7 linked regions of the Homo sapiens genome follow. The protein of the gene in region 5 interacts with the protein of the main gene of each other region in a pairwise test. Each region holds a gene or a part of one and is shown on either strand. Other genes may lie near its edges.

Region 1 (4,124 bases), on a different chromosome or scaffold from region 5:
CCAGGACCTCCAGGACCCCCAGCTGTGATGCCCCCTACACCACCACCCCAGGGAGAGTATCTGCCAGATATGGGGCTGGGAATTGATGGCGTGAAACCCCCCCATGCCTACGGGGCTAAGAAAGGCAAGAATGGAGGGCCAGCCTATGAGATGCCTGCATTTACCGCCGAGCTAACCGCACCTTTCCCACCGGTGGGGGCCCCAGTGAAGTTTAACAAACTGCTGTATAACGGCAGACAGAACTACAACCCGCAGACAGGCATCTTCACCTGTGAGGTCCCTGGTGTCTACTACTTTGCATACCACGTTCACTGCAAGGGGGGCAACGTGTGGGTTGCTCTATTCAAGAACAACGAGCCCGTGATGTACACGTACGACGAGTACAAAAAGGGCTTCCTGGACCAGGCATCTGGGAGTGCAGTGCTGCTGCTCAGGCCCGGAGACCGGGTGTTCCTCCAGATGCCCTCAGAACAGGCTGCAGGACTGTATGCCGGGCAGTATGTCCACTCCTCCTTTTCAGGATATTTATTGTATCCCATGTAAAAACAAAAAAACAAAAAACAAAGAAAAGAAAGAGATTTTATAGAAGAAAATGACACACCAAAAAATCCAAATGAAAAACATAATTGCTTCAAAACACTTACACAGTTGGAAAGTTATATGTAAGTGAAAATTTGGACCATTGTGTACAAATAAAAACTAAGATGCATGTTTAATACTCCACACAGCAGCCTGTAATTGCGAATGATGGGATAGAGTTATGTATCAAGTACTGACACTTGGTTGTACCCACTGGAATCATATTAGCTGTTTTATGTTATATGCTTCCACAGTAACCTGCTTATTCAGATCAGTCAAAATATATCAGTATGAAAGATCATAGCTAATGAAAGGCACTCACTCATATTGTTTACTTTAAAATATTTATAAATATGCCTTAAAGAAATACAAATGATAACAATTACATACCGTATTTACTTGCTTAATTTCCTCTGTATTTGTGTAGATACTTTGACATGGAATATATGGTGGGGAGACCCGTAGTGTTACCGCCCCAGTGGGAGGGGGCCCTGGGGACCCTGGTAATGCTTTAGTCAAAGGGATATCTCTCTTGTATCAGAGGCTGTGTCTTTTAGTAACAGGAGTCCTCGTCAGAATTGCGTGTCTGTTGTCTCTAAAAGAATGGGTGAACCAATCGGCCTTTGTGAATTTATTCAGTGCCTTCTCTGTACCAAGCACTGGGTAAGGCACTTTTGTGGAGCATTAGACAGTAACCCTCAAGGAGCTAGAGAACCGGATGGGAGACATGAGCAGTAATTAACTCACTTGTTCCCCAGAGTTTCTATTTGTTTTGATTTTCTTTTTCTGTGACTTATTTTCCTATTTTCTTTCCTCCATGTAATTTTCACTATGGCCCAACTAATATAAACACCTGGAAATTACAAGGAAAAAAAATTCTTCCTCTAATAACTTTCCAAATTTGTGGAATATTTATTTGTAATAGCAGTTATCAGTTATGCTTATATAGCATTAAAAATTCTCCTCCTTTGACTACACACACAACCACAGTGTGGTTCTAATCATGGAGATATCAGTAATTTTTAGTAACTGAATTTTGAGGACATTTCTCTGTTTAGCATGTATGCAAACTGATATGTAATCTGAGGTTCCAAAGTCAATTTTTTTCTTTTTTTTTTGAGATGGAGTCTTACTCTGTCACCCAGGCTGGAGTGCAGTAGCACGATCTTGGCTTACTGCAACCTCTACCTCCTAGGTTCAAGCAATTGTCCTGTCTCAGCCTCCCGAGTACTGGGACTACTGTCTTGCGCCACCATGCCTGGCTAATTTTTGTATATTTAGTAAAGATGGGTTTTCGCCATGTTGGCCAGGCTGGTCTCAAACTCCTGGCCTCAAGTGATGCACCTGCCTCAGCCTTCCAAAGTGCTGGGATTACAGGCATGAGCCACCGTGCCCGGCCAAAGTCAGCTTTCAAAATCCAAGCCATAATTGGTGAGGGGGGAGTTTCAGAATTACATAGAAAAATTAATATTTGAAAAAATAATTCTGAAATTTCGAATTTAAAAACAGATGTGCTGCTTCTGGGTGTAGGTAGTAAAAGTATAGGAAAAGAACTGTTTCCTTAGAAGCGGACTGTGGAAGGGCTATGTAGAATGTCAAAGGGCAACAAGAGCCTGTGTTTTTAATGTCATCCTGTACTCGGCACAAATCAAAGGCCAATACAAGTCTGAAAAGCAGAAATAAATATTTTTCCAGGTTTTTGCTTGGGCACATACTAACTGCTTTGGGCATTCTAATCTGGTCTCCAAACACCAAAGACCCATTTCGAGCCTGCTATTAGCCTGCTGCTGACTCTATCACTTGGAGCAATAATGTGGGGTTATGGTGGTGGAATCTTGTATATTTTTGTCAAAAATAAAACCATGAGTTAAGGGGATAGATATAGATGGAAAAATACACAAATAAATACGGTATGAAAACACATGGAAATGTGTCTTTGTCAAATCTGAATCATTATTACCATCACAAAAATTCTTCTCTTGGCCAATATCTCATTTCCCTATATAGTATACAAGCACCATTTCTTCTCAATTTTTAAGAAGAGAAATTAGTCCATTACCACAGGGGTTCTTGTCACTACTAATTATACAACAATCTTTTCCCAACAAAAAGATGTCCTCCACAACCTTTGTTTTCAAAGCAGACAGCATCTATGTGGCCAAATATACTTTGGGTTGTTCTTGAGGATACTGGTTTTGGGCTGATGACTATGGTGGGCAGCATGGATCCATTGGGCTCCTTCTGCTAAACAGCCACATTGAAATGGTTTAAAAGCAAGTCAGATCAGGTGATTTGTAAAATTGTATTTATCTGTACATGTATGGGCTTTTAATTCCCACCAAGAAAGAGAGAAATTATCTTTTTAGTTAAAACCAAATTTCACTTTTCAAAATATCTTCCAACTTATTTATTGGTTGTCACTCAATTGCCTATATATATATATATATGTGTGTGTGTGTGTGTGTGCGCGTGAGCGCACGTGTGTGTATGCGTGCGCATGTGTGTGTATGTGTATTATCAGACATAGGTTTCTAACTTTTAGATAGAAGAGGAGCAACATCTATGCCAAATACTGTGCATTCTACAATGGTGCTAATCTCAGACCTAAATGATACTCCATTTAATTTAAAAAAGAGTTTTAAATAATTATCTATGTGCCTGTATTTCCCTTTTGAGTGCTGCACAACATGTTAACATATTAGTGTAAAAGCAGATGAAACAACCACGTGTTCTAAAGTCTAGGGATTGTGCTATAATCCCTATTTAGTTCAAAATTAACCAGAATTCTTCCATGTGAAATGGACCAAACTCATATTATTGTTATGTAAATACAGAGTTTTAATGCAGTATGACATCCCACAGGGGAAAAGAATGTCTGTAGTGGGTGACTGTTATCAAATATTTTATAGAATACAATGAACGGTGAACAGACTGGTAACTTGTTTGAGTTCCCATGACAGATTTGAGACTTGTCAATAGCAAATCATTTTTGTATTTAAATTTTTGTACTGATTTGAAAAACATCATTAAATATCTTTAAAAGTATGTTTCTCATCTTGTTCGTATCATTCAGTTGACACTGAACCTCACAAGTATTTTTAAATTCGTACTCTCATGAATTAGCTGCTGAAATAGAGACCTAAAATAAGCATAGCTTATACAGAACAATTTATTCCTCTTTGACTTAAGAGCTCCTAGGATAAGCAGTCTAGGACTCACATGGTAATTCCAATCACAGCCCCAGGCTCCTTCCATCTTATTGCTCTTCTACATCAAGGGTGTTGCCCTCATCTCCATGGTCCAGGATACTAACCATCAGTCACATTCTATCCCCGGGGAGGATGAACAAAGCAGGAAGGACAGGACATGCTTTTTGTCTTAAAGGACTCAACCTAGCAGCTGCTTGGATCACTGTCTCCCACATCCCGTGGCTCCAAATTTAGTCACGTGACCACAAGAAGCTGTAAGGAAGTGTGGGAAATTGAATAGTCTATGTAACCATATGCCCAGCTAAAAATCAGGGGTTCTAGTAGTATGGGAGAAGA
Region 2 (3,500 bases), on a different chromosome or scaffold from region 5:
TACAGCCAGGACCTAGTCCGAGGATCTCTTCTCAATTGGCTGTCACCAGTGCTAAACCAATTGTTAAATAATTTTAAAATTATCTCCTGAGCACATCCAGGCACCTTTGCTAAGTGCTTTGTGTATGTTTTATCTCATTTAATCTTACAGCAACCCACTGAGGTAGTTTTATTATTCCACTTTATAGGTGAGTGCACTGTAGCTTCAGTCCTTTGCCCACAGTCACATAGCTAGCATATGTCCAAATGATAGTCAAACCTTAGTGTCTGATTCTCTGAATCTATGTTGTCGTCTACTTTTTCTGTAACTTTTAATTATTAAGTAGTTAGGGTTCCTTCCTGACTATGGATTCATTTGGGACCATCACCCAAGATTAGTGAGAGATACTTTTTAAGACAAAGTTTATGATGGAATATTTCTTGGAATTCATAGCAGCTCAAAGTAAGTGTTAACTATTGGTGGGTTCTTAAGGACCAGCATGTCCAAGGGATAGATAGATTGGTAAATTACTGTATGTACCTGTCTTTTACAAAGCTATAAGATATTTAAGTACCCGTTTTGTAATTTTCCACTTAAACTGATATGTTTGATGAACTTGGCAGTCTAACTGCATTGGTTAAAAGGATGCACATTTATATTTCTAAATGAAATGGAATACTGAATTTAAAAGGTGATGTTTTCTCTATTAAGTATGAAAATAGATACAAATCTGGCCAGGCGCGGTGCTCACGCCTGTAGTCCCAGCGCTTTGGGAGGCCAAGGTGGTCAGATCACCTGAGGTCAGGAGTTCGAGACCAGCCTGGCTAACATGGTGAAACCCCATTTCTACTAAAAATACAAAAAATTAGCCAGACGTGTTGGCGGGCACCTGTAATCTCAGCTACTCGGGAGGCTGAGGCAGGAGAATCGCTTGAACCCAGGTGGCAGAGGTTGCAGTGAGCCAAGATCTTGCCATTGCACTCCAGCCTGAGCAACAAGAGCAAAACACCATCTCAAAAAAAAAAAAAAAGGGCCAGGCACGGTGGCGCACGCCTGTAATCCCAGCACTTTGGGAGGCCAAGGCGGGTGGATCACAAGGTCAGGAGATCGAGACCATCCTGGCTAACATGGTGAAACCCCATCTCTACTAAAAATACAAAAAATTAGCCGGGCATGGTGGCGGGCACCTATAGTCCCAGCTACTCAGGAGGCTGAGGCAGGAGGATGGCGTGAACCTGGGAGGCGGAGCTTGCAGTGAGCCAAGATCGCGCCACTGCACTCCAGCCTGGGCGACAGAGCGAGACTGTCTGGGAAAAAAAAAAAAAAAGATACAAATCAAAGTACTGAATCCTTGGTAACGAGACATTTAAAACACATGCACATACCCACTACTTAAACATACTTTGAAATTACAACCATTTGGGGATGTTTTTAGCATTTGTGCTTGAAGTAGATCAATATTTGTAGTTGTTTTAGTTCCATTTGTCACTGTTAACTTTCATTTGTACCTCTGGAATTAGCAGTGCTGTATTCAGCATTGGCACTTAAAATATTTTATAGCTCTTAGAACACTATTTTTTAAATTACATTGATCTTTATACTCTCCTAGGATTCCAGTCCTTCCACAAATTATTATATGCAGTTTTCTTTATACTGTTCCATTCTTCAGACAGAGTTCAGGTTGTAGGATCATCTGAATTTTCTTAGTGAAATACAAGCCAGTAGAAACCAAAGCTCGTGTTTTTCTACTGTATGACTATGGGAGCTCTCAGTATAGAGAAACTTGATCATACCTGTGATAGATATAAAGATGTAAATTAAAGTCTAGTTAGTGAGTTATTTGAGGGTAAAGCCAGAATAGGAAAACATTTTGTTTCTCTTTTCCTGGGCTTCACAATCTTTGGAGAATAACTAATTTTATTTTAACTCTAGTGTTAGAGGCATGTATGTCTTCTGGTAATCAGTAATAGTAATTCATTTTACCTGTTTGTTTCTCACTGTTTTATTCTACTTAGAAGAAGACATGATAGGATTGTGAGTTTTTCTCTAACTTTGGATGCAGTGAGATGACCAGTGTGTTCCAGTTAAAGAAGAAGAGTGTTTTAAAATCATAAACCAAATAAAGAATCCTACCTTACATTAATTTCTTGCACTTCTTCTGTTCTCATCTCCATTTCTCTTTTTAACATGTGGAATTTACACTTCAGGTTTAAATTTCTTGTCAGGCCAATTACAGATTACAGTAGGATATGGTCTGTGTATATAACAACTATAACTTGTTTTAGATCAGAGTTGACTGCAATAATGAAAGGAGTGTCCACACTAAAACATTACAGAATACCTCCAGTGAAGGTAGTCGGCTGCGCACGGGTAAAGATCGTAACCAGAAGAAAGAGAAGCCAGACAGCGTGGATGGTCAGCAACCACTCGTGAATGGAGTACCCTAAACTGCATAATTCTGAAGTTATATTTCCTATACCATTTCCGTAATTCTTATTCCATATTAGAAAACTTTGTTAGGCCAAAGACAAATAGTAGGCAAGATGGCACAGGGCATGAAATGAACACAAATTATGCTAAGAATTTTTTATTTTTTGGTATTGGCCATAAGCAACAATTTTCAGATTTGCACAAAAAGATACCTTAAAATTTGAAACATTGCTTTTAAAACTACTTAGCACTTCAGGGCAGATTTTAGTTTTATTTTCTAAAGTACTGAGCAGTGATATTCTTTGTTAATTTGGACCATTTTCCTGCATTGGGTGATCATTCACCAGTACATTCTCAGTTTTTCTTAATATATAGCATTTATGGTAATCATATTAGACTTCTGTTTTCAATCTCGTATAGAAGTCTTCATGAAATGCTATGTCATTTCATGTCCTGTGTCAGTTTATGTTTTGGTCCACTTTTCCAGTATTTTAGTGGACCCTGAAATGTGTGTGATGTGACATTTGTCATTTTCATTAGCAAAAAAAGTTGTATGATCTGTGCCTTTTTTATATCTTGGCAGGTAGGAATATTATATTTGGATGCAGAGTTCAGGGAAGATAAGTTGGAAACACTAAATGTTAAAGATGTAGCAAACCCTGTCAAACATTAGTACTTTATAGAAGAATGCATGCTTTCCATATTTTTTTCCTTACATAAACATCAGGTTAGGCAGTATAAAGAATAGGACTTGTTTTTGTTTTTGTTTTGTTGCACTGAAGTTTGATAAATAGTGTTATTGAGAGAGATGTGTAATTTTTCTGTATAGACAGGAGAAGAAAGAACTATCTTCATCTGAGAGAGGCTAAAATGTTTTCAGCTAGGAACAAATCTTCCTGGTCGAAAGTTAGTAGGATATGCCTGCTCTTTGGCCTGATGACCAATTTTAACTTAGAGCTTTTTTTTTTTAATTTTGTCTGCCCCAAGTTTTGTGAAATTTTTCATATTTTAATTTCAAGCTTATTTTGGAGAGATAGGAAGGTCATTTCCATGTATGCATAATAATCCTGCAAAGTACAGGTACTTTGTCT
Region 3 (3,500 bases), on a different chromosome or scaffold from region 5:
CAAGAATGTGTTGGGAGAGAAGTGAAAGTCTTACTCAGCATGTTCCCAAAGAAAGCCAGGCACCCAGGGGCCCCTGCACTGGGGATTTGCACCAGGCAACCCAAATCCACACCAGGGACTTGCTGCTGTTTTCCCTGTTCTCCAGGGAGGAAGCCCTCAGGTCTGTCTCTTCTCCTCAGGACCCCAGAAGCAGCACCCAGAGGCCAGAGGCTAGAGGACGTGCATCACCGCCCTGAGTGCAGGCCTCCCGAGTCCCCAGGACCACGGGAGAAGACGAATGTCGGGGAGGCCGTGGGGTCTGAGCCCAGGACAGTCAGCAGGAGGTACCTGAACTCCCTGAAGAACAAGCTGTCCAGCGAAGCCTGGAGGAAATCTTGCCAGCCTGTGACCCTCTCAGGATCGGGGACGCAGGTGCCTGAGGGCTGAGGTAGAGGTGTGGGGTGCTGGGGTGGGGAGCTCTCCCTGACCTCCCCTCCACACATGCTTTCCTAGCCAGAGCCAGCAGTTCCCCAGGTGGGGGTATGGTGTGATCAGAGGTCAGCTGGGAGCTAGATTTCCCCATGCTTAATGGCCTTTGATTCACTAACTGCCTGCTACGCACCGTGCTGGATTACTTCGCGAGTCCCTCGTGTAGGAGTTTTTTGGACAAGGAAGTTGAAACACAGTTTTAAGGAACTTATTCAAGGCCACACAGCTTGGAACAGTCTCCATCTTGTGAACCTAATACTCTTCTCAGGTGGGGCCTCAGTTTACCCACTGGAGGAGACAACAATCTCAACCTAGAAATAGAGGTCTGAGTGTGAACTGTCCTGCCCTTAGACTAAAGCCCAGTCTGATCTCTTCTGTGGCTTGCAGTTTTCTCATCTGCAGAGTTCAAGGGTTGGCATGCAGATACTGTGCACCCAAATTCCCTGGAGTCACATCCCAGCACGTCTGCTTACTAACTGTGTGTCCTTGGGCAAGTCACTTGAGTCTCTTTGTGCCAGTTTCCTCATTTGTAAAATGGGGATAGTGGTTATAGTAATGCGTCCTGGTTTTCAATCGCTGCTGAACAAACCTATCAAAAATGTAGCGGCTGGCCGGGTGCAGTAACTCACGCCTGTAATCCCAGCACTTTGGGAGGCCGAGGTGGGCAGATCACCTGAGGTCAGGAGTTCAAGACCAGCCTGGCCAACATAGGGAAACACTGTCTCAACTAAAAATACAAAAATTAGTTGGGCATGGTGGTGGGCGCCTGTAATCCCAGCTACTCAGTAGGCTGAGACAGGAGAATCACTTGAATCCAGGAGGAGGAGGTTGCAGTGAGCCGAGATTGCGCCACTCCACTCTAGCCTGGGTGACAGAGCGAGACTCTGTCTCAAAAAAAAAAAAAAAAAATGTAGGGGCTGAATGTAACTGTTTATTGTTTCTCACATTTTGTGAGTTGACTGGGATGCTGCCGGGAGGTTTTTCTACTGGCCTCACTCGGGGGTCTGTGTGATTCTGCTTGGGCTGCCGTAACAAAATGCCCCAGACTTCAACACCAGACATTTATTTTCTCACAGTGCTGGAGGCTGGAAGGCCAAGTTCAAGGTGCCAGCAGGTTTGGTTTCTGGGGAGGTCTCTGTTCTTGGCTTGAAGACAGCCACTTTTTCAGTGTGTCCTTACATGGCCATTTCTTTGTCATCCCTGGTGTGTCTTCCTCTTCTGACATTAATCCTACCAGTTTAGTGCCCTACTCTTATCATCGCATTTAACCTCAATTACCTCCTCCAAGGCCTCATCTCCAAATACACTTACATTGGGGGTTAGGGCTTCAACACAGGAATTTGGTTGGCGGACGCAGTTTAGTTCCCAGCGGGATCTCTCAAGTAGCTGCAGTCAGAGGATGGCTGGGGCTGGAATGCCCAAGACAGCTCAGCTCGCAAGTCTGGCATCTGGGCAGGGACAGCCGGAAGACTGGGCTCAGCTGGGATGCTGGCAGGGCTGGGCTCTTTCTCCGTGTATTCTCCAGGCCTCTCCTCTCCACGTGGCCTGTCCATGAGGTCTCCCTATCAGAGCTGCCAGACCCCTTGATGTAGTGATTCACAGCTCCCAAGACAGCACAGGTGGAAGCTTCCAGGCCTCTTAAGGCTAAGGCAGAGAACTGGCACAGCCTTACTCAGCTGCATTCTGTGAAAGCCACCCCAGGGCCGGCCCAGATGCACTGCGGGAGGCCATGAATCCCGGGAGGCATGCTTCACTGCAGCAACTTTGGAGACTGAACCGAGGTCCCCATCAGAGGAGACCAAAGCTGTCTTCCCCCTTTTTCTCCTTCTCTCCCCTCCAATCCTCCGCAGGAGCCAGAGAAGAAGATCGTCCAGGAGCTGCTGGAGACAGAGCAGGCCTATGTGGCGCGCCTCCACCTGCTAGACCAGGCCAGTGACCAGGACACCCCCCTCTAGAGCCCCAGCCCTGGGTCTCCTCACCTCACCCCTTCTCAGCCTTCCCACCCTGCTCACCAGAGCTGAGTCAGGAGCCCTGGCTTTGACTCCAGGAAGCCTTGGCCCTTTAACCTCAATGGCTGGGGTTGGGGTAGAATCAGGAGGTCTTGTTAGCAGTACTCCCCATTCTGCCTGTGGTGCCCAGGCTGGCCCCTGTATAGCAGAGAACACACCAGCTGGCCCTTGCTGGCCTACACGGTATCTTCATCTGTCATCTCAATGCCCACAACCTCACAACGATCTTACCTTTCATAGTTTTTCAGGAGCCCTAAGGCTAGAGGGTTATTCATCACCGCAGGGAGCTCTAGTCTGATGAAGTCCAAGACCTCCACAGTTTGGGCCTGTTTATGGCATTCATCAGCTGCCAGCCTTTGGCCAAGTCCCTGCATCTCTAGGCTTTGCCTTGCTCATCTGTAAAGTGGCCAGAACACAACCTCCCCTGCCTTCTTTTCCCGGGGTTGCTGTGAGGATGCCGGGAGATCAGGGAGGTGGAAGCATGCAGTAGGCTTGGTGGGACCCTAGTTCCCCCGGGCTGATGTGTGGGTGGCTCCCTGTCACTGCAGTGAGTGACCTGTCGTGGCGGCTACAGGTGTTTTTCCAGGAGCTGCTGAAGACAGCCCGCAGCAGCAAGGCCTTCCCAGAGGATGTGGTCAGGGTCATCTTCTCCAACATCTCCTCCATCTATCAGTTCCATTCTCAGTTCTTCCTCCCAGAGCTGCAGCGGCGCCTGGACGACTGGTGAGGTCCACCAGGAGCCCCTGAGGCCTCAGACCACAGCCCTGGCCAGGTGGAGGTGGGGAGACCCCAGGGCGCTAGGTTCAGCCTCCTAGGCCCAGGCCCTTATTGTGTGGCCATGCCTCCCTGGGGCTCGGTCTGTCTGCACAGTGAAGGGCTTGGGTGAATGAGCTCTGAGAGGCTGTGTGTGTGCAGACTGCTTCCTGGGGAAAGGGGTGGATCAGGTCCTGGCCAAGCCAAGTGACCAAGTGACTTTGGGACAGTGAAAATAGCCAGTGCCAACTGAGGGCTTCCTACACGCCT
Region 4 (3,500 bases), on a different chromosome or scaffold from region 5:
CAGGGGACCCACACACAAGCAGCGTCCCAGCCACTCTGGGACACAGAGACAGGCTTTCCCTAGGAAGTGGCATCTGAGGAGGCCTGGAGGTTGAGTAGACATCATACAGGTTGGGGCGTGAGGGAAGGGTGCTCCTGGCAGCAGGAACAGTGTGCACAAAGGGGCTGGGGAGAGTGGGGCTGAAGGGAGCACAGACAGGCCAGCACTTGGAGGGAAGTTGGGGGCAGGTGCAGGCCAAGCTGGGTGGTTGGCAGAGCCAGATCTGGAGGGTACCTGACTGGAGCTGGCGGGCCAACGGGGAGCCTATCACTGTACCTAGGAGATGGTGAAGAGGAAGGGGGTGGTGCTGGCAGAAAAGAGAGGAGTGGGGGGATTCCAGAGAATCCAGGAATGGCATTTCCAGGGCTCCACGACTGGGCACTGGGGGAAAGGTCTGTTTCTGATGTCTGGTCGGTCTCTGGCTTGGATGGATAGTGGCGCCATGGATGGATGGTGAGCTGAGAGGAGGGCACTCCCGGGGAGGATGGCGATGGGCATCAGGTAAACCCAGGCAGGCGTCCCAGGCAGGACTTGCCTTTGCGCTCCCAGGTCCCCCTGCCTCCCTCTGGCTCCGTCCTTCTGCCCTCTACTCCCCTCTGCCCTGAGGACACCTGAGAGCTGAGGAACCCCACTGCCCTCTGGAACCCACACCCGGGGAGGGCACAGGCGAGGTGGCACCTCCCCTGGCCACCAGGCTGCGCAGCCAAGGCCGTTTCTGATCAGCCTGCATGCCTCCCTCTGGGCAGATGCAGCTGCCCTACTGCTCTTAGGGGGCATCTGCTGGGGTCCTTGCCCTTTCCTCTGCCCTGGACCCCTCTCAAAAAGGGGCCTACGTGCCTCCTGGAGCCTCCAGCCTGGGCTCAACTGTGGGGACCTGGGAGACTCAGTTCCCCTCTCTGTCCCCCGCTCGCTCCCCCAGGCCACCTTGAACAAAGAATCCTGCAGGTGCTGACAGAGGCTGGCTCCCCGGTGAAACTTGCCCAGCTGGTGAAGGAATGCCAAGCACCCAAGAGGGAGCTCAACCAAGTCCTCTACCGAATGAAAAAGGAGTTGAAAGTCTCCCTCACATCCCCTGCCACCTGGTGCTTGGGCGGGACTGATCCTGAAGGCGAGGGTCCTGCAGAGCTGGCCTTGTCCAGCCCTGGTAACTGCCACCCCGGGGAGGCGGGTCTGACCCTGCAGGGAGCATCCTGGCAATGGACAAGCACAGATTTGAGCCTGGGTTCGAATCTGAACTCTGCCACATGGGAGCTCACAGGTTTCCTCTCTCTGTGCCTTGGTTTCTTTTTCTGGTTGATGGAGCTCACAGCAGGGCTGCTTGGTAGGGGTTGCTGAGAGGAGGCCCTGCGTCAGGCTCAGCCCAGCCCTGCACACAGGAGGTACTCTGCAGAACACTAACAATTATAATAGAAAATCATCATGATGGAGACAGCAATGACGCCATGGTCCCAATCACAGAACATATGCAGTCCCACCAGCCCCCCTTTTCTAGCTTTACAGCCCACAGCCAGAAGGAGCTGCCATTTATCATGCACTTAAGATTAGCCAGGCACTGTTTTGGGGTTCACCCAGCCCTCACACAACCCCAGGAGGCAAAGGAGGCTGAGCCCCGGAGAAGTTAATCGGCAGGAAGCCGCAGCTGCCAGGGCGCAGGCAGGATTTGAAGTCAAGTGTGTTGAACTCTGGAGTCTGAGTTTGCAACTACCGGCATTGCCACTTACCCCTAGGGAGCTGCCCACCTTTGTGGGGTGGAGGCCTGGTGCTGTCTTCTGTCCCCCACCCCTCTGACCCATCTTTCTTTCTGCAGCCGAGAGGCCCCAGCAACATGCAGCTACAATTCCAGAGACCCCTGGCCCTCAGTTCAGCCAACAACGGGGTAAGTTTTTGCATGTCCCTTCAGTTCCCGGGACACAGGATCCCACTCCCCAGGAACCCCAGGCCCTCCTTGAGGGTACAAGATCTCACCAGTGTTCAGGGGCCCTGTCCCACCCACCAGGCAGCTCCCATACAGTGTTCAGAGCCAAGACCCAGCCCTCACAGTGGGAGAATCTGAATGGCTGAGCAGTGATTTCTCCAGTCAGACAATAGCTGACCCTCACCATGCACCCGCCACATGCCAGGCCCAGCGCAGAGCACTCTGTGCACATCCCCCACCCTCAGGGCACCTCTGCGGTGCGTCATGATGACCCCGTTATCATGACACCCATTTTACAGATGAGGAAACCAGGCCTTGAGGGGCTGGGTCCAGGGCCACACAGCTAGGAAGCGGTGGGGCAGATGCAAACCCTAGGACTACTCCCTAACCACCTGGCCATCCTGCCTCCCAGAGGAAGACATCTACAGGTTTCTCAAAGACAATGGTCCCCAGAGGGCCCTGGTCATCGCCCAAGCACTGGGAATGAGGACAGCAAAAGATGTGAACCGAGACTTGTACAGGATGAAGAGCAGGCACCTTCTGGACATGGATGAGCAGTCCAAAGCATGGACGATTTACCGCCCAGGTAGGCCCCCGGCTGCCTGTGTCTGGGCTGCAGAGGGAAACCATGACACTAGTGCTTGGTCTTTGCTGGGTGCTCTGCTGAGCAGCTCACCGGAAACTGCTAGAAGCTTCTGGAGGTCCTACCGACAATTCACTGCAAGGGCTTCCAGGAGGAAGGGGTGTGCTGGCAAGATTAACCAGGGACAGCTTTTTGGAGGCGTGGCCCAAGGTCTGCAGTTGCAGAAGGCCAGTGAATGGGACGGAGGTGGCCCATTCCCAATGTTCTCAGCTCTGGGGTGCAGGGATCAGTCTGAGTTTGGGAATGGTTTTCTTTGAGCACTTTGCTCAAGTTGGGGTTTAAAAGTTGGCAGAAGAGAAGGCAAGACTAGTCTTGGACCCCTACCGGCTGGAGCCCCAGGGTCAGCGCAGGGTCAGCTTCCCCGTGAGACCTAACACACACAGGGCCAAGATCCAATAGGTGCATGGCATTCTCAGGGGTCCTTGAAAATGTTTTAATTTTAATTTCATTTAAAATCAGAGGAAATGAATACTACAATAATAATGAATATCTAAAAATGGGCCAGGCACGGTTGCTCACGCCTGTAATCCTAGCACTTTGGGAGGCTGAGGCGGGCAGATCACCTGAGGTCAGGAGTGACCAGTCTGGCCAACATGGCGAAACCCCGTCTCTACTAAAAATACAAAAATTAGCCAGGTGTGGTGGTGGGCGCCTGTAATCCCAGCTACTCGGGAGGCTGAGGTAAGAGAATAGCTTGAACCTAGGAGGCAGAGGTTGCACTGAGCTGAGATCGCGCCATTGCACTCCAGCCTGGGCAACAAAAGCAAAACTCTGTCCCCCAAAAAATAAAATAAAATAAAATTTAAAAATCCAGCCTGGGTTATCCTTGCTATACAATGTAATTTAAATATTTGTGTATGGGGGAAGGGCCCACAAAGGCACAGGAGCTGAGACCCTGGAGGG
Region 5 (3,500 bases):
GGGAATTAGGAAAAGGTTGGCTTGAGAGAATACAGGTAGTGCTCACAAAGTATTAAGAAACACTACTTAGTAATTGCCTGACAAAATACTTGAAATGTATAGTAAGGCTGCTGAATATATTGTGTTGAATATTCTTAGAAAGCTGAACAGAAAATAACATTGCAAATCTTTGTTTTTCAAGATCCCAAGTCTCATTTTAAGAGCAGATTTAAATAAATTATCTTGATTTATTTTTTCAAAGCTCAGTTGTGGGTGCATCACTGTTTATTATATAATTTACACTTACATGTATGCCTGAAATATTTCATTATGAAAACACTGTTTTAAAAGTCTTTTTAAGCACAAGTTTTTTGTTTGTTTTTTGTTTTTTTTTTAGTTAGTTCTATCATCTTAGTGTAGATATTGCTGCTGAATCAGAATGGGAGAGGCGTATTCTGTGATGGTAATAACTACCTTTTATGGGCCAGGTACTGTGCTAGTAATTGTTGTGCATATCTGACTCACCCTAGGGGTAGGTATTACCATCTCATTTTACAAATGAAGGAATAGGGTTTCAGATATTAAATCACTTGCCCAAAGTCCCATGGCTTGTAAGTGCTAGAGGTGGGATTTCATTTTATATTTTCCAACTCTAAAGCCCAAACAGTTTGTAACTCTTGTGCCGCCTTAGCCTCCGAAGTATGAATTTTATATACTACAATCTAATTTTAAAACTGGTATAGTTAAAAATACTATGAGCCAATGCTCAGTCACATGGCTAGTAGGGAAAACAGGAACCTGACAGGTCATTCCAACTAATTCAGGCTAATTTTTAAATAAACTTGTGTGATATACCAAGGCAGATCCCTGTCCTATACTGTTCTCCATGAGATATACCCAAGATCATCAGAAGCATTTGGAATTTAACTGGGTAAAGAGAGTGTCACCCAGCAGCTGCTGAGCAAGAAATGAACTAGAACGGCTGATTGCTAATTATATGTTGTGCATCCTGTTTTTTGTCAGCTTGAAAATAGTGTCTTTACTCTTTTGTTATTTGGAAATGAATTCTTTTTTTCTCATCAGTGATGATTTCTTTCTTTAAAAACTGACATCAGGCAAGGAAATGCTAGATGGTTTTGTCTTTATTTTTGAGAGTAATTGTTCAAAGGAGAGAGTCCAGAGACCTGGATTCTAGGCTTAGTTCTCTTAGCAATTCTGTATAAACCCTGGGAACCATCTAACTTCACTGGGTTGATCTGTAAAATAAAGTAGTTGAACTAGATGGTTTCCTTGTTCTCTTCAGCTATGAAATGCTCCTCAAATGTCATCTGATTGAAAGATCACAAAGACTGAGGCAGGAGGACCTGGGTTTTGTCTCTCTCTCTCTCTCTTTTTTTTTTCCTGAAATACTTTAATAAGAATGATATCTGTCTCTTACTAGCTAAGTGACTGGTTAAGTCTTGGATCTTCAGCTGGGCGTGGTGGCTCACGCCTGTAATCCCAGCACTTTGGGAGGCCGAAGCAGGTGGATCACGAGGTCAGGAGATCAAGACCATCCTGGCTAACACGGTGAAACCCCGTCTCTACTAAAAATACAAAAAATTAGCCGTGCGTGGTGGCGGGCGCCTGTAGTCCCAGCCACTCGGGAGGCTGAGGCAGGAGAATGGCGTGAACCCGGGAGGCGGAGCTGGCAGTGAGCCCAGATCACGCCACTGCACTCCAGCCTGGGTGACAGAGCGAGACTCTGTCTCAAAAAAAAAAAAAAGTCTTGGATCTTCTTTGATCTTTAGACCCTTTATCGCTCTCTCTTTTTTTTTTTTTCCTTGACGCCTGGCTAATTTTTTGTATTTTTAGTGGAGACGGGGTTTCACCATGTTAGCCAGGATGGTCTCGATATCCTGACCTTGTGATCCACCCACCTCGGCCTCCCAAAGTGCTGGGATTACAGGCTTGAGCCATGTGCCCGGCCCCCCTTTATCTCTTAGATAGTAATAATATCAGACCTAACTACCTTACCAGGTTGCTGTGAGAATCAGATGAAATAGTAGTAAATGAGAAGCATGCTGAAAAATTCTAAAGCAAAATATAACTGTAAAATGTATAATTGCTCTAAGTTCTTACATAGTGAAATTGTTTCCATATTTAAACTATTTGATGGAAATGTAGTTTATTGAATGAGAAATTTCTGGAATACATGTACTTACATATTTCAGTACCATAATTATTAAATGCATTTAATGTGTTGGGATAGTAATTGTTTATGAATATTAGTACTGTATTAAATGTTAATAAAACCTAATATGTTTTTTCAAAATAATGTGCTAGTGACTTTTTTAGTGTTAGGGATTGATTTTGTTCTTGGCTTTGGTAGAGAGTGCTTTTTGGTTATTCTCTGGCTGATGGAGAAATAAAAAACGTTAAAGCCATTTAGTTAATAATGGAGATGCACCAGAGTTTTTTAAGTAAAATGAATTTCTAAACTAAGATTAAGATCTAGTAAAATTTTCATAAGGTATTTTCAGATAGTTTCCTGTAAAATTGAAGATTTCTTCTCTTAGCTAAACAGTTTTCTATGATTATCTGGCCTCATCAATACTCATAGCTTCAAGAAGATATACTACTAACAATTTAGACTAAATATACTGCTAACAATTCAGTTAGTCTAACCCAATATTTTGAAAAAGTAACAAATAATTTATTTGTATTCAGATGATGTTACATAAGAAAGTCCCTTAGGATGACCTGCATGTTCTTTTTCGTCATTACTAAATGCAGTCTAAGGGCCGGGCATGGTGGCTCACGCCTGTAATCCCAGCATTTTGAGAGGCTGAGGTGGGCAGATCACTTGAGGTCAGGAGTTCAAGACCAGCCTGGCCAACATGGTGAAACCCCATCTCTACTAAAAACACAAAAATTAGCCAGGCATGGTGGCATGTGCCTGTAGTCCCAGCTACTCAGGCGGCTGAGGCAGGAGAATCGCTTGAACCTGGGAGGTGGAGCTTGAAGTGAGCCAAGATTACGCCACTGCACTCCAGCCTGGGCAACAGAGCAAGACTGTGTCAAAAAAAAAAAAAAAAATTAGCTGGTTGTAGTGGTGTACTCCTGTAATCCCAGCTACTTGGGAGGCTGAGGCACGAGAAACACTTGAACCTGGGAGGCAGAGGTTGCAGTGAGCTGAGATCACACCACTGCACTCCAGCCTGGGGAACAGAGCAAGACCCTATCTCAACAAAGGGGAAAAAAAAGTAGTCTAAGGACAGATGATAGGAACTAGGTAGTCCTGGAGAGACTGGAGTTATAACCCACAGGCTCCTCTACGAACATGAAATTTCTTTGAAATATTGTGTCTTATCTTAAAAGTTCACGGACCAGTGTTATGTTCATGGAACTTTTGCATTCTATTCTGTAAATACATCTGTATTTTAATATGAAATAGATTTTTAAAGTTATTCACTGGCAAAATTACTATTCCAGGAAGGTGTTACCTATTACTTATTCCTGGCGTATAGATAACTACCTAC
Region 6 (2,513 bases), on a different chromosome or scaffold from region 5:
GCCCGCGTGCGCTGCACGGCCTGGAGCTGCCGCAGCTCCAGCTCCCGCGTGGCCTCGTGCTGCCGAAGCAGCAGTGCACACTCCAAGTCCTTCTGGGTCTGCTTCTTGTTCAGGTCCTGAGGCAGAAGAAATGCAGGGCCCGGGGCCTGGTCAGTATCAAGGAAGTGAGAGGCCAGGGCTCCTTGGCAGAGGGAGCTGGGGATGGCGGAAGAAACACAGGGCCCAGGGCCTGGTCAGTATCAAGGAAGTGAGGGGCCAGGGCTCCTTGGCAGAGGGAGCTGGGGATGGCAGGAGATGAGGGTGTAGGGGAGGCAAGCTCCTCCCTGGCCTGGGAAAAGAGGCCTAAGGAAATTCTGGCAGGGTCTGTTGGGGATGAGAAGTAAAAGGGGCACTGAAGCAAAGCTGAACTGTAACACTCGAGGGCCAAGGAGAAAGAAGACAAGAATGAGGAAAATGGAAAAGGGTGGGTCCCTGGGATCCACGAGTGAGCGGGAGGGGAACAGAGATTGGGATGCCTACCTCCCGCAGCAGGTCCTGGTCCAGGCTGTGCCGAGCCAGCAACATCTTGCGCTTGTACTGGCGACACTGCAGCTCAAAGTACTGGCGCTGCCGCCGCAGCAGCCCTGCTTCCTCCTCCGCCTGGCACTGCTGGAGCTGCTCCTTCTGCCGCAGCAGCCACTCGGCCTTCTCCCGCTTGGGAGTGCTGGGGTTCTCCTGGAGCTCCTGGGCGAGTGCAGAGGGAAGCAGGGTCAGGACCCACCTGGCTCGCCATCGGCTCCGCCCCCAAGCAGCCCTAGCTCACCTCCTTCAGCTGTTCCTTGCGAAGTTTGTAGGTCCGCTTCTGTGCCTCCAGCAGGGCAGCCAGCTCCTTCTTCTGCTGCCCAAGGATGTGCTGCTGGAACTTCCGCTCCTCGGCCTGGGCAGCTCGTGCCTCCTTCTCACCTATGGCCTGGTGCCGCCGGGCCAGCTTTTCTGCCTCTGCCCCAAAGCCAGCCCGCTGCGCCTCAAGCTCCCGCTGCAGCCGTGCACTGTGCTCCTCCCGTTCACCCCTCAGCCGTGACTCCAGGGCCAGCAGCTGCTTCTGGTGCTGTCGTCGCATCCGCTTATAGCCGCTCAGCTGCTCCCGCAGCGCAGAGTCCTGCTCATGCTCCTGGATCTGACGGCTGACCTGGGGAAGGAGAGAGGGTGAGAGCTGGGGCTCAGCCTGGCCCCTAGTTAATTAACACAAGGGGTCTTCCGTGGGGAAGAGCATGGGTTTTCAACTCATGGGTTTCATTCTCATTTAACACCTTCCTCACACACGGCCACTCTAGCCTGTTTCCTCAACTGGATAATGGTGATATTATCTACATCACAAGTTGGTGTGGCCGAATGATAAAAGGTGGCGAGCACAGGGCCTGGCACAAAAGTAGGAACAATCCATACTAATTTGAAACAGTGAGTCAGACATACCTGGGATCAAATCCCAGCTTTGCCACTTACCAAGCATGTGATCTCAAGTAAGTTAACTTCTCAAAGCACCAGTTCCCTCATCTGTTAAATGGGGAAATAATACCTCCTCATAGGGGCTGTGGGGTAAGTTCGGACTCTATCTAATAAGTGTTGGCTTCCTTCCCCTTCAGCAAACATGGTCGGCCTATCACTCCCCAGGTATTGAGGTGGGATCGGGGCCACAAGATGCTGGAATAACAAGAACACTGGGCTTGGACACCTTCATCCAAAGTCTGATCTCAGGTCTCATTCTCAATTGACTCTATGAGTGGCTCTCAAACTAGTCCCGGCAGCCAAGCCCCTGGCAGTCAAGACCTCTCAGCACAGTACCGCACAACACCATGGGATCTGAAGAATTGTTGGAACACAACCAGCACCAAGCAGAGGCCATAAGAACATACTAGACTTAATCAGTGGCCTCTAAGGGGATTGTTGACGCTCAAATGCAGCTCAGCAGGAACGTGATCTAAAAACATAGATGAAAAACTATGTTTTATGAAAAGCCTAAACACTTTTTCCTGTGAACTGAGAAAGACTGCCATGAGTTGATTTTAGGAGAGGACTAAGGGCCTGCTTACAGGAGCAGAGAGCCACCAAAGGCACTGGGGCAAGTGGCCCCTCTGAGCCACAGGTGCCTCATTTCTCCAATGGGATCTTACCCTTCCCCTCCCAGGGGGGCTGGGAGGGTTAACACAGGCCTGTGTGTAAGCCTGAGAGCTAACTGCTGGCATGAGACAGATATCTGAACACCATCCCTGCCCTCTGGGGCACAGAATCTGGCAAACCTATCATGATGCTGTTCAGGACCACCCAAGCACAGGGCACCCCCGGCACAGGGCTCCCCAGCACTGGACACCCCCAGCACAGGGCTCCACAGGCACAGGGCTCCCCCAGCACTGGGCTTCCCCAGCACACAACTGTGAAGCATCTGACTCACCAGAGGAGCCTGGGAAGGCAACCCAGGAGATGTCAGTTAAGTCAGGCCACAAAAACGGAGTAAGAGTTTGCCAAGCTAGAAACAC
Region 7 (3,500 bases), on a different chromosome or scaffold from region 5:
AGGTGGAGGTTGCAGTGAGCTGTGATTGTGACACTGCACTCCAGCCTGGGCAACAGAGACCCTGTCTCAAAAAAAAAAAAAAATTGCTCTGACTATTCTAGGTCATTTGCACATCCATAAATTTTAGAATTATCTTGTCAATGTCTCTGAAAGGACCCGCTGGGATTTTGGATTGTAATCGTGTTGGCTATTGTGAGACTTTTCTCAAAAAGGAATTAATGAGGCCTGGATCTCATTTCCTGTAGGCATTAAAGAAAATTCCACTAAGATGTGTGACTGTAGGCCAAAGGTCACTAACTCAGTAAGTGAGGCAGGTAAGGAAAATGAATGGAGGGGCCAGGAATGAGATGATCATGGCAGCTGATCCTGGGCCATCGTGAAGGGATAATAGGGTACAGTGAGGACTTGGCAAACACGATCTAAGGGGGTGGCCTCTTCTCAGCTTCATCCAGCGATGCCATGCAAGAACATGGGTTCAGTGTTGTCTGATCTTTCAATCAGGAGAAGTTGGAAATCCATATTTTTATGCAGTGTCCTGATTTTTTCAATTGAAATTTAATACACTGAATGGGTCAACATCTGGTGGGTAAACAGAACACTCTAGGTGAAATGTGGCCTATGGGCTGCCAGTCTGTGACCTCGGCCTTAGGCTAATCATTCTTTGGTTCACATGTTCATCATCTGTAAACATGAAGGTGTTGAAGACAGTCTCAAAGTTCTTTTTCTAGCTCAATGAGTCTAAATTTCAAAAGAGGAAAATGTCAAAATAACTCAGAGTTTGAAGAGGTAGCTGAGATCAGCAATAATGATAATATCTTAAGTTGACCAGAGCTTTACATTTGACATACCACTCTTGTGTCTGTGTCATTTAATCCTCACTTTATCTTGTGCAGGAGGCGTCAGAGTTGTTTGCCCAACCACACGGGAGTTGCAGGTTACAAAGTCACATCATCCGATTCCAGGTCCAGTGCTTTTTGTTTTTTTAGAGTCTCGCTCTGTCGCCCAGGCTGGAGTGCAATGGCGCCATCTCGGCTCACGGCAAGCTCCGCCTCCCGGGTTCATGCCATTCTCCTGCTTCAGCCTCCTGAGTAGTTGGGACTGCAGGCGCCCACCACCATGCCTGGCTAATTTTTTTGTACTTTTAGTAGAGACAGGGTTTCACCGTCTTAGCCAGGATGGTCTCGATCTCCTGACCTCGTGATCCGCCCGCCTCGGCCTCCCAAAGTTCTGGGATTTACAGGTATGAGCCACTGCTCCTGGCCTTTTTTTTGAGACAGAGTCTCACTGTGTCACCCAGGCTGTAGTACAGTGGCATGATCTTGGCTCACTGCAACCTCTGCTTCCTGGGTTCAAGCAATTCTTCTGCTTCATCCTCCCAAGTAGCTAGGATTGCAGGCATGCACCACCACAGCTGGCTAATAGTTAGTAGAGACGGGGTTTCACCGTGTTGGCCAGGCTAGCCGTGTTCTTTTTTAACAGTCTTTGAAGGCTTCGGAAATAGGTGCTTTGGGAGGGAGAGCAGTTATGGGGGATTGTGAGACGGCCTTCAGCTCAGTTGAGGGCAGGTCCCTATCTGGATTTATAACTTAGTTTGGTTGAAGTGTCAAGGCTTTTGGGTAAGAGTTGAAGCCTTTGTGAGAACTCTCTGAAGGCAGGAACTTTAGCATACATTCATCTTAGTAAGCCAGTGCCTGGCATACTACCTGACACACAGTTAAGTTTTTGTATCAGTAAATCAATGGATAAATTGATCCTTCAAAAAAGAAATCAAAGGCTTTAAATCAAGATGGCTGAGAATTTTGTCCAGAGAATTTCAAGAATAGTCAGATGCTTCTGATAAGTACTTTTAGAATGTTAAGATTGAAAGCTGAGAGACTTTATTCCTATAACTCCACTCCTAGATGGAAAAAACACCATGTCGTCCTCCTCATGTTTGACTCTGAGATTTGGGTTTTGATTAATAGGTTATAACTGTCTCCCTGTGCAGTACATTTAAGAAATCAAATACAGCAGGTATAAGGGAAGTTAAAGCCACTGAAGGATTTCGTATGCCTTTAAAATTTCCAAACAAGTATAAGTCTTTATCTTTTGAGAATACATATTGAAATATGGAGTGATACCATGTCTGAAATTTCTGTCAGTGAGGCACTGCGGGTAGTGGAGAGGGTAAAGATGAAAGATGATTGTATATAAGTTGGTAATTTTTAAGCTAGAAGATGGATAGATGGGGTTTCATTATACTTGTCTTTATTTCACATATACTATTTGAAATCTTTCATAATAAATGTAAAAAGGAAATTATCAGAGAGCTTCATAGGTTCAACAATGCTTTTGGTAAACCAAACTTCACCTTTTTTTTTTTTTTGAGTTTGTAATTAGTATGATCATCGAGGGAAAGATGGGACAAAGGAAAAGAGCATGGCAGAAATGGGCATATGGGCTTTGAGGCTGACAGCCGTGGCTCAGCCTCCTGCTAGCCACGTGGCAAGTCACTGAACTTCCGAGTCTGGGTCTCCAGGTCTGTAACAGCAGGAGAGTACAGTCTCATTTGCATGGTTGTGGGGAGGATTAGGGATGAAGTGGGCCAAGTGTCCGAGAACAGCACCTGGCCCATCCTAGGGGCTTAGATCTGGTAGTGTTTTATTATTGTTAGAGACAGAGAGTGATGAAGGGTAAAAATCTGCCCCAGGGCTCTCGTCTATAACCCTTTCTTCTCTATATGAATTATAGTGCCAAGGGTTATGTAACCATGGAGCTAATTTATTATTTTAGAAACAGAACTCTTAAAGACCAGATCAGACCACTTTGAGATTTACAAGAACTGTAACCAGTTTATTGCTTTTTGAAAAATGAAGTAAGGAAGAACTTACAAAGAAAAGCATATTAAAATGGTGGGATGCCATTTTATACCTATTGAATTGACCTCCTTCCTTACCCCAATTAATGGTAATATCCAATATCAATGAGTTTTTTTGGTGAAACTTTTCTCATATGTATATTATAAACTCTTTGGGAAAGCATTTCGGCAGTATACGTTGAGAGCCACCAAAAGGCCCATATCCAGAGATTTAGTAATCACCCTTTGGAAGGTGTTCTAAGGAAATAATTCAGAAGAACTGTTATATACCCACTAAAAATTACTCTGTAATAGCATAGAAAAGGCTTATGATGAGCATGCTAGGTTGTACCTATCTTATGATCACAGCTATGCAGTTCTTACCATAAATGTAAACGGAGGCTGGAAAAGAGCATGAAGAAGGGAAAACAGCTAATGTGTTAGGGTTGTGGATAGTAGCTTAGTTTTTCTTTCAGAAATTCTTTTATTGTTGTTAAAGATTATGCCAGTGTATCCAAACATACACACTCAAAGACCTTGCAAGAGGACGTTACTATCATGGTATATGGGACATTTGGAACATGGGTAAGCTCTTTCCGAAAATAGAGTAATCAAAACCCAGAAAGCACCGGAAACCTTGAGGGTGTGATCACTTACGTCGAGA

What was found.
Region 1: the proteins of KLHL12 (region 5) and COL8A1 interact in a two-hybrid assay, tested with the Homo sapiens proteins (one large-scale study listed by BioGRID and IntAct).
Region 2: the proteins of KLHL12 (region 5) and FMR1 interact in a two-hybrid assay, tested with the Homo sapiens proteins (one large-scale study listed by IntAct).
Region 3: the proteins of KLHL12 (region 5) and FGD2 interact in binary tests that used the Homo sapiens proteins (3 or more experiments, as listed by UniProt).
Region 4: the proteins of KLHL12 (region 5) and ZBP1 interact in a two-hybrid assay, tested with the Homo sapiens proteins (one large-scale study listed by BioGRID).
Region 6: the proteins of KLHL12 (region 5) and TAOK2 interact in a two-hybrid assay, tested with the Homo sapiens proteins (one large-scale study listed by BioGRID and IntAct).
Region 7: the proteins of KLHL12 (region 5) and CRTC3 interact in a two-hybrid assay, tested with the Homo sapiens proteins (one large-scale study listed by BioGRID and IntAct).

The regions. Positions count from the first base shown.
Region 1 is NC_000003.12:99,795,594-99,799,717, forward strand, and holds the end of COL8A1 (collagen alpha-1(VIII) chain precursor), read left to right. Parts: coding exon 1-543; 3' UTR 544-3,624; downstream 3,625-4,124. UniProt on the Homo sapiens protein: Macromolecular component of the subendothelium. Major component of the Descemet's membrane (basement membrane) of corneal endothelial cells. Also a component of the endothelia of blood vessels.
Region 2 is NC_000023.11:147,946,419-147,949,918, forward strand, and holds part of FMR1 (fragile X messenger ribonucleoprotein 1), read left to right. Parts: intron 1-2,264; coding exon 2,265-2,426; 3' UTR 2,427-3,500.
Region 3 is NC_000006.12:37,008,655-37,012,154, forward strand, and holds part of FGD2 (FYVE, RhoGEF and PH domain-containing protein 2), read left to right. Parts: intron 1-179; coding exon 180-411; intron 412-2,318; coding exon 2,319-2,396; intron 2,397-3,051; coding exon 3,052-3,200; intron 3,201-3,500. UniProt on the Homo sapiens protein: Activates CDC42, a member of the Ras-like family of Rho- and Rac proteins, by exchanging bound GDP for free GTP. Activates JNK1 via CDC42 but not RAC1.
Region 4 is NC_000020.11:57,613,927-57,617,426, reverse strand, and holds part of ZBP1 (Z-DNA-binding protein 1), read left to right. Parts: intron 1-958; coding exon 959-1,183; intron 1,184-1,846; coding exon 1,847-1,915; intron 1,916-2,366; coding exon 2,367-2,540; intron 2,541-3,500.
Region 5 is NC_000001.11:202,920,735-202,924,234, reverse strand, and holds part of KLHL12 (kelch-like protein 12), read left to right. Parts: intron 1-3,500. UniProt on the Homo sapiens protein: Substrate-specific adapter of a BCR (BTB-CUL3-RBX1) E3 ubiquitin ligase complex that acts as a negative regulator of Wnt signaling pathway and ER-Golgi transport.
Region 6 is NC_000016.10:29,983,868-29,986,380, reverse strand, and holds part of TAOK2 (serine/threonine-protein kinase TAO2), read right to left. Parts: intron 1,169-2,513; coding exon 803-1,168; intron 724-802; coding exon 520-723; intron 117-519; coding exon 1-116. UniProt on the Homo sapiens protein: Serine/threonine-protein kinase involved in different processes such as membrane blebbing and apoptotic bodies formation DNA damage response and MAPK14/p38 MAPK stress-activated MAPK cascade.
Region 7 is NC_000015.10:90,536,423-90,539,922, forward strand, and holds part of CRTC3 (CREB-regulated transcription coactivator 3), read left to right. Parts: intron 1-3,500. UniProt on the Homo sapiens protein: Transcriptional coactivator for CREB1 which activates transcription through both consensus and variant cAMP response element (CRE) sites.